Linked DNA regions of Homo sapiens. The protein of the gene in region 1 interacts with the protein of each later gene in a pairwise test. Each region holds a gene or a part of one and is shown on either strand. Other genes may lie near its edges. The genes, in order: TBX20 and ZSCAN1.

Region 1 (3,820 bases):
ACACTTCCTCTAAATTGCATAGATTTGATCCTTACACATTGTATATATGTATCCAAATATCACATGTACCCCATAAATATGTACAATTATTATGTATCAATTAAAAATTATTAAAAGAAGAAAAAAATTATGGAAGTCCATCTAAAGTTTTCTTAGCATAAAATCTAAGACAGAATTTTTATGTGTATCTTTATTTAACAGCATGAAGTAACATCCCAGCAATGCCTTAAAAAGGCATTTTATCAAATATGTAAGGACCTGCATCATTGACTATTTGTTCTATTAAACTACTGATAAGAACACAGAGTTAATTTTTCTTTTTTCCACATTTTCATAAACTTTATACTGACACAAAATCAAATTGTTTTGTTTTTAATTACAGGGCTTCTTTATGCTTTAATATTCATGAAACTCTCCAAAAAAAAATGGTTACATAATGAGTAAACAGCACTTTCCCAAACTGATTTGGACATAAAATCCTTTTGTTATTTCATCTCACATACATATGTTCTATAGACTACACTTTGGGAAACCCCCATCAGAGGTCCTAGCCCTATTCTCTCTAAGTTTTATTATCTGCTATGCTGCTGACAGAAATTAGATGCTTAACCCAACAACAGGCTGTAGCAGCCTCCAAAAATGTATATTCCCTTAGTTTAGTTGGCTCGGGTGGTACAGCAATTTCAGAAGCCTTAGGAATTCCATGGAACAGAAGATCCCTGACCTTCTTGCATAGAAATGGCACACAGCATTCCCGTAAATGACCTATTACAAAATCAGTCAAGGTCCCCTGAAGAACACATAAATGTTCCCATAAAATGACTCAGAGATAGAAGGTGGGAAGGGGATAGGGAAGGCAGGAAGGGACTCAGAGAGAGACAGTTTTGTGCGACCTGTCCATTCTACCTCAGGGAACCTGCACAGTCCAAGGCATGGTACTTACATGGCCATGTTGATCCAGTTCATTGTTGGTGAGTTTCACCTTTTCAAAAGACACCATCTGTTTGAGTAGTTGCTCACCGGTAAAAGGAGAATCTGGATGCACATAGAGCCTAAGAAAATTAGGAGAAAACTTTATTGAGACTTCTTTAAAAAGTCTGTCTCTGTAGGTTATAAAATGTTCTAATTCTAAGGGAACACATAAACCATATATAAGTGGGAAATTTTATTGCCCTATATACCTCAAATTTATTACTATTGCAATGTCAAAACAACTGAAAAATGTCTAATTATTTCTTCATGTACCAATTATCTAAATGAGATAATACTTAACAAATTTTCTATTAAAAGCTGAGCAAGGCATTGTTTAAAGGGGTGTGTGTGTGTGTGTGTGTGTGTGTGTGTTTTCATCTATCTAGTCAACTACTGGTCTGCTTCGATCAAACGCAAAATCTTCTTGTTGAAGGTGCTTTCAAAAGAAAAACTAGCTTACACTAATCGCATGAGTTCCTATTATAAACATCTCTTAAATAACAGTGAAAACATAAATAATTTAAAAGAGAAAATAATTTTAGAGAATCCATTTATTTAAACTTAAAGTTTTAAAGTTTGTGTTCTTTGTAAATATAAGATGGAGCAATTTTAATATAGGGACATGGAGAACTCCCAGTAGTCCACCGATCAGCTAGGATTCTGTTCTTCCTGTTACATTAAACACTACTGCTTTCATCATTATCTGTTTATGTGCTCACTAAATGAGAGTTAAAACAAGCTAGACACACTTCACATTATTCAATTTATTTATCTGTAAACAGTGTAAGCCAAAAAAAAGCTCTCACATCTTTTACGCACTCACAGTTAAATGCAGGTCACTTTTTCTACCTGTGACAACGCCTTAAATGCAGCTCTTTGTAAGTCCCCATCCTGGTATCTTCTTGACTTAAGTCTTTCTGAAGTCAGAGAGAGACTACAGAACTAATGAAGGGGAAGCAAAATCCTTGATTTAATAGGACAAATTCCTTTATCCACGTAAAAGGTTATTTACACCTAAATTTTATATAGGATCCTTATAACTACAATTAAACATAAATATTTTTACTAGGGCAAAAGCAAGGGATAAGAAGTCATAAAATTTTTCTTGCATTATTCATGTAAAGAACAAGAAATCTGTTCCATGGTTTGTCACACAGAGGACTACGAATAGAAGAATTCTGTACAAATGCTGAAACTTACAAAGCCCACCAGGAGCAATGCACAAAAAAGGTTGACAGCACCAAAGACTCTTACCAGACCTACAGAGGAACTGTAAAGGCTTCAGGCATTTGTCTGCCTGTTAATTCCACTGTTTTTAGGAGGATTGCTCACAGTTGCCTTTCAATTATTCTTTGATAACACAACCACTTTTCAAGTACCATCCTTCCAAGACTGTAGCTTTATAGGTGCAATTGTTTTACTGATCAGAACCACATTCCTCCCTCTAAAAAAGTCCAAAATTATTTAAAGTCCTAAAGTTGATGAAATGTTCCCTCTCTAAGGATCACATTCACCACATGTAATGGCTATTAATAAAATATTAATGTAATTAAATATTATGTACTTTAAAGAAAAGGAGATGTCCTATATGAAAAGGTAACATTATTTTAGATCATAAGTAATATCTTGCTTATTATTACAATCAAGTGATACTGTCAAGCATTATTTCTTCCGATTAGGAATGACTGACCAATGAACTTCAGCCTGAACTAAAATGCTTCAAAGTCCTAAAACCATGGGAAATTTTTGCCATCAGTATAAAAATTATCATCTCCCAAGTTCTTCGTTTTTCTCTTATGGAGATAGATAAGTAGCAAACTATTTATTTTAATAATAATAAAGAATAGTTGCTAAATTATCTATTTTTTATCCCATAATAAGCTAAACATTTTTATTTAATATCAATCTAAAAAAGCTGAACTAGGATTAATGAAAAAATATACAGGAAGCCCCTCCTCTCAAGTCCCCCAGAGACTTAAAATTCCAGCAATAGCTTAAACATGCTTCAGTTAAGATAGTGTATTGGTACACACTTTTTTTCTCCAACCAGAACAGATTAGTAACATAAACAAGGCATGTCATATTTCCAAAGTCCTGCTGGCCTGCATCAGCTCCCCATACCTTCAGATAGGAAGAAAATGTATGTTTAATAAGAGTGATTAACTTCTTAGAGGAAAGACTGGAGGGCAAAAAAAAAAAAAAAAAAAAAGAGGGTTTGCTTGTAGAAAATGGTTAGGAATCTGCCAAAATACTCTCTCAGGTTTAAAACGGTATTGAAAAGTTTGGAAGGTAGCTAAAGAATAATAGTAAACTATTTAACAGTAAATAGAAGAGAACACTAATTTTATTAATTTTAATATCTATTATAAACTGGTGAATCTTGCTCAACTAAAAAAAAACTAATAGCAATTGTTTTTTAGATTTTCTTAGTCTTGACTGTTATTTAATATACTGATTTGAAAGGGCTGGGAAGACGCCCTTTCTGGTCTCTTCCGAGAATGGAAAACTCTGAGAGATTGCTTTTAATCTCTTTTCTAGTGCACTTAGCATACGATAAACTCAATAATATAATAAACTACTAATTAAGCTGAATATTCTATCTGAACCATATGTGTAATTGTCTGTTGATTCTCTGCCTTGACTATGACTCCAGACTAGACACAAAGTACCAGCCGTAACTTAACAGTTCCCAAATCTGTACATTTAAATAAGTTCTTAGCTCTGATACAAACTTTCAATCAATCACAAAAAATTAGTCATTAAACAACAAAAATTAGTCATTAAACATAAACAACAAAAATTAGTCATTAAAGAAAAGCTATGAGGCTGGGTTTTAAAATCCCAAACA
Region 2 (3,820 bases), on another chromosome or scaffold:
CGTGATCTCGGCTCACTGCAGCCTCCGCCTCCTGGATCCAAGCGATTCTCCTGCCTCAGCTTCCGGAGTAGCTGGACTTACAGGTGCACACCACCACGCCCAGCTATTTTTTTGTATTTTTAGTAGAGACGAGGTTCCACCATGTTGGCCACGCTGGTCTCGAAGGCCTGACCTCTAGTGATCCGCCCGCCGCGGCCTCCCAAAGTGCTGGGATTACAGGCGTGAGCCACCGCGCCCGGCCCCAAGAGTCAGAAAGTTTTTTACGCCAGGCACAGTGGCTCACGCCTGTAATTCCAGCACTTTGGGTGGCTGAGGAGGGAGGATCGCTTGAGCCTAGGAGTTTGAGACCAGCCTGGGCAACATAGTGAAACCCCATCTACACAAAAACTAAAAAAATTTTAAAACATATAAAAATTAGCCGGTGCGGTAATGTGTGCCTGTGTTCCCAGCTACTCAGAAGACTCAGGTAGGAAGATCGCATGAGCCCAGAAGGTTGAGGTTGCGGTGAGCCATGATCGTGCCACTGCACTCCAGCCTGGGTGACAGAGTGAGAGTCAGTCTAAGAAAGAAAAAAAAAATGTAAAGCAAAAACTTACAGTAAGATAAATTATATTGAAGAAGGAAATATAGTTGCCAATTTAGTAGCCTAAGTGCACCATGTTTATGAAGTCCACAGCACAATAACCTCCCAGGCCTTCACATTCACTCACCACTCAGACTCACCCAGAGCAACTTCCAGTCTCACAAGCTCCCTTCCTGGCAAGTGCTTTATACAAGTGTACTGTTTTTTATCTTCTATTTTGTATTTTTACTGTACCTTTTCTATGTTTAAATCCACAAACAACATTGTGTTACCGTTGCCCACAGTATTCAGTGCAGCCCCGTGCTGTGCAGGTCTGTAGCCTAGGAGCCATGGGCTGTGCGTGTAGGTGTGTGAGTGCCCTCTGCGATGTATGCACGGTGACGAAACCGCCTAAGGAAGCATTTCTCAAAAGGCTTCCGATGGTAGGCGGTTGTATGCGCTCAGCGATCGCCAGTCGTGCCCACTCCACAGCGCCTCCTGGCGAGCCGGGCTGCCCCGCGCAGAGCAGCTCCACCTGTCCCTCACCTACGCTCCCGCTAATCCCCGGCGACTTCAAAAGCAGAGGTGCCTCAGGCAGTGTTAGCACCCTGGCAGCGGCAATGCCTGGGGCCGCGCTCACCAGCGCCCCGATCCCGGAGCTGCCGTCTCTCCACGCGGGCGCCAGGCCTCAGGCCTAAGGCCTCTCCCTCCACAAGTGCAGCTCGCTCAGGGACGTTGGGGCACCCTGCTGTGGCTGAGCCCCACAGCCTAAACCAGCGCCAACGAGGATCCTCTCAGCCACAGCGGCCCTGGTGGGAGAGGGGTGGGAGGACCTCAGCAGCCTTCCCCACCTACGACCCCCGCAAAAAGAGAGTCCTTGGAGTTGCCGTGTGGTGAGGGGATGGCCTGTGAGCGCGGCTGTGGTTTCCACGTGGCGTCTGGGATGGGAGAGGGAGTCAGATAAGCACATCTGCCGGCAGCGGCTGAGGAAGCCCGTGGCCAACAACTGTGGTCTACCCAGGTTAGATGCCTCCGTTAGATGCAGAAACAGAAACCACGGCCCACGAAACTTTGTTTTGGTGCAGGAGAGGGGCTCTCATGATGATCTTTAAATCTATTTTAGGGCCGGGCGCGATGGCTCACGCACTTCAGGAGGCCGAGGCGGGTGGATCACGAGGTCAGGAGATCGAGACCATCCTGGTGAACACGGTGAAACCCCGTCTCTACTAAAAATACAAAAAAAATTAGCCGGGGAGGTGGCGGGCGCCTGTAGTCCCAGCTACTCCGGAGGCTGAGGCAGGAGAATGGCGTGAACCCGGGAGGCAGAGCTTGCAGTGAGCCGAGATCGCGCCACTGCACTCCAGCCTGGGCTACAGAGCAAGACTCCATTAAAAAAAAAAAAAAGTAAAGTAGAAGTTCCTCTTCAAAGACTTTCCTCCCCATCTAATTAGGAATAAATAGTAACTTCTCTTAGAAGCAAAATTTATTCAAAGACCTGTGCTAACATTCTTATATATCTGCTAGCCATAATAAAAAAAATCAATGTACTTTATGTTCTTAGCTCCCACAATTTAGCCTAAATATTTGCCCTGGTGTGCCTATACTGGTCCAAGCAAGCATTAGGTCATAGCCTGTTCCTCTTCCTTATTTGAAGGTGTTTTTACCTTTCTCAGCATTCCACAAGTTACTTCCTTCTTCCTTGAACTCCTGAACTTGTGATCCGCCTGCCTCAGCCTCCCAAAGTGCTGGGATTACATGCGTGAGCCACTGTGCCCGGCTGTTGATGTTTTTTGAGTTAGGGTCTCACTCTGTCATCCAGGCTGGAGTGTAGAAACATGATCATAGCTTACTACAGCCTTGAACTCCTGGGCTCAAGTGATCCTCCTACCTCAGCCTCCAGAGTTGCTAAGACTACAGGTGCACACCCCTACACCTGGCTCATTTTTTTTTAAGACATGGGGTCTTGCCATGTTGCCCAGGCTGCTCTTGAACTCCTGGGACCAAGTGGTCCTCCCACCTCAGCCTCCCGTGAGGCCTCACTCAAAGTGCTGGGATTACCGGGATGAGCCACCACACCCAGCCGTATTTTGTTACAGCACCCAGAACGGACTAAGCCAGTGGGAGACACACATGTGCAGTCTTTCAGCCTGTTACTTGGCTGCCTGAGAGTGGGTCCTGGGCCTAGAACATCTCCTTACCAAGAGATAAGGGGTCCCCCCAGTTTGTGCTGGGTGTAGTGCCTCGTGTGGAGGTCTCTGTTTCCCAATGTGTGCCCCTTTGTTCTGCTCAGGCGTGTGCTTCACGTGGCACCTAGACAGCCCCACTGTTAGGTCAGGACCCCTCTAGGAGGGACCTGCTGGCCCCGGCCTGACAGCCACATGGGCAGATGGTGCTCTGGCCCGGTCTCTGGTCTGTGAGCAAAACCTTGCTCCATTCATTGTTCGACCGTGCTGTGTTTCCCTTGGCGGCTCCAATACCAAGATCCAGAGGCAGAAAGTGGTCAAACTCAGTAGCCCTGATCATACGAACACATGCTACTCACTTAGCAGTTCTTACTTTTGTTCTTTTGTGATTTACCCATTACCCCTGGATTTCTCTCATGTGTCTGCGTGTCCCCACCCCTGATTTTAATCTCTCCAGCCACACAGAGATCCGCTTGGCTCCCAACCGAGCCGGGCCCCTCCCGTCGCCTTGAGGCCTGCGCAACAGCAGGTCTAGCTGCAGGGGAGCCCTCAGCATTTCCTTCTGGGCCCGCCCAGAATCCTGGGTTCACTGAGGGAAGATGATCGGGGCAGCAGGACTTTCTCAACACACGCAGCATCTGGTGCGGGTGACACAGGAGGATGGGTCTTAACTGCGAGGCTGGGAAAGGACAGGAGGGGCTGGGGTGAGGCCCAGAGGCACACAGCAAACACACAGCTGCACTGACTGCCCTCGCCCAGCACTGAGCCCCAGGAAGCTTGGGGAATCTGTGGGGCAGGCGGGGAGTTTGGAGGCCGGGCTTCCTGGGAGCGCTGGGGACAACCTCACACAGTCCTTGGATGGGGCATCCTTGAGGCCGTCCCAGAAGCGGCACGCATGCCCTGGGGTGCAGGAGCACGGAGCTGGGGGCCCCGGGCTCACCTGCGATGGTTCTTTCTGGGACCTTGGACTCTTCCCATCTTCCTCCTCACCGAAACTCCAGTCCTGGGGTTCGACCGAGTCCAGAGATACCAGAACTGTGCGGGAGAAAGGGATCGTGAGAGGGGCCTGTTCTTC

Evidence for each region.
Region 2: the proteins of TBX20 (region 1) and ZSCAN1 interact in a two-hybrid assay, tested with the Homo sapiens proteins (one large-scale study listed by BioGRID and IntAct).

What each region holds. Positions count from the first base shown.
Region 1 is NC_000007.14:35,244,006-35,247,825, forward strand, and holds part of TBX20 (T-box transcription factor TBX20), read right to left. Parts: intron 3,160-3,820; exon of another isoform or gene 1,796-3,159; intron 1,053-1,795; coding exon 944-1,052; intron 1-943. UniProt on the Homo sapiens protein: Acts as a transcriptional activator and repressor required for cardiac development and may have key roles in the maintenance of functional and structural phenotypes in adult heart.
Region 2 is NC_000019.10:58,040,410-58,044,229, reverse strand, and holds part of ZSCAN1 (zinc finger and SCAN domain-containing protein 1), read right to left. Parts: intron 3,781-3,820; coding exon 3,686-3,780; intron 1-3,685. UniProt on the Homo sapiens protein: May be involved in transcriptional regulation.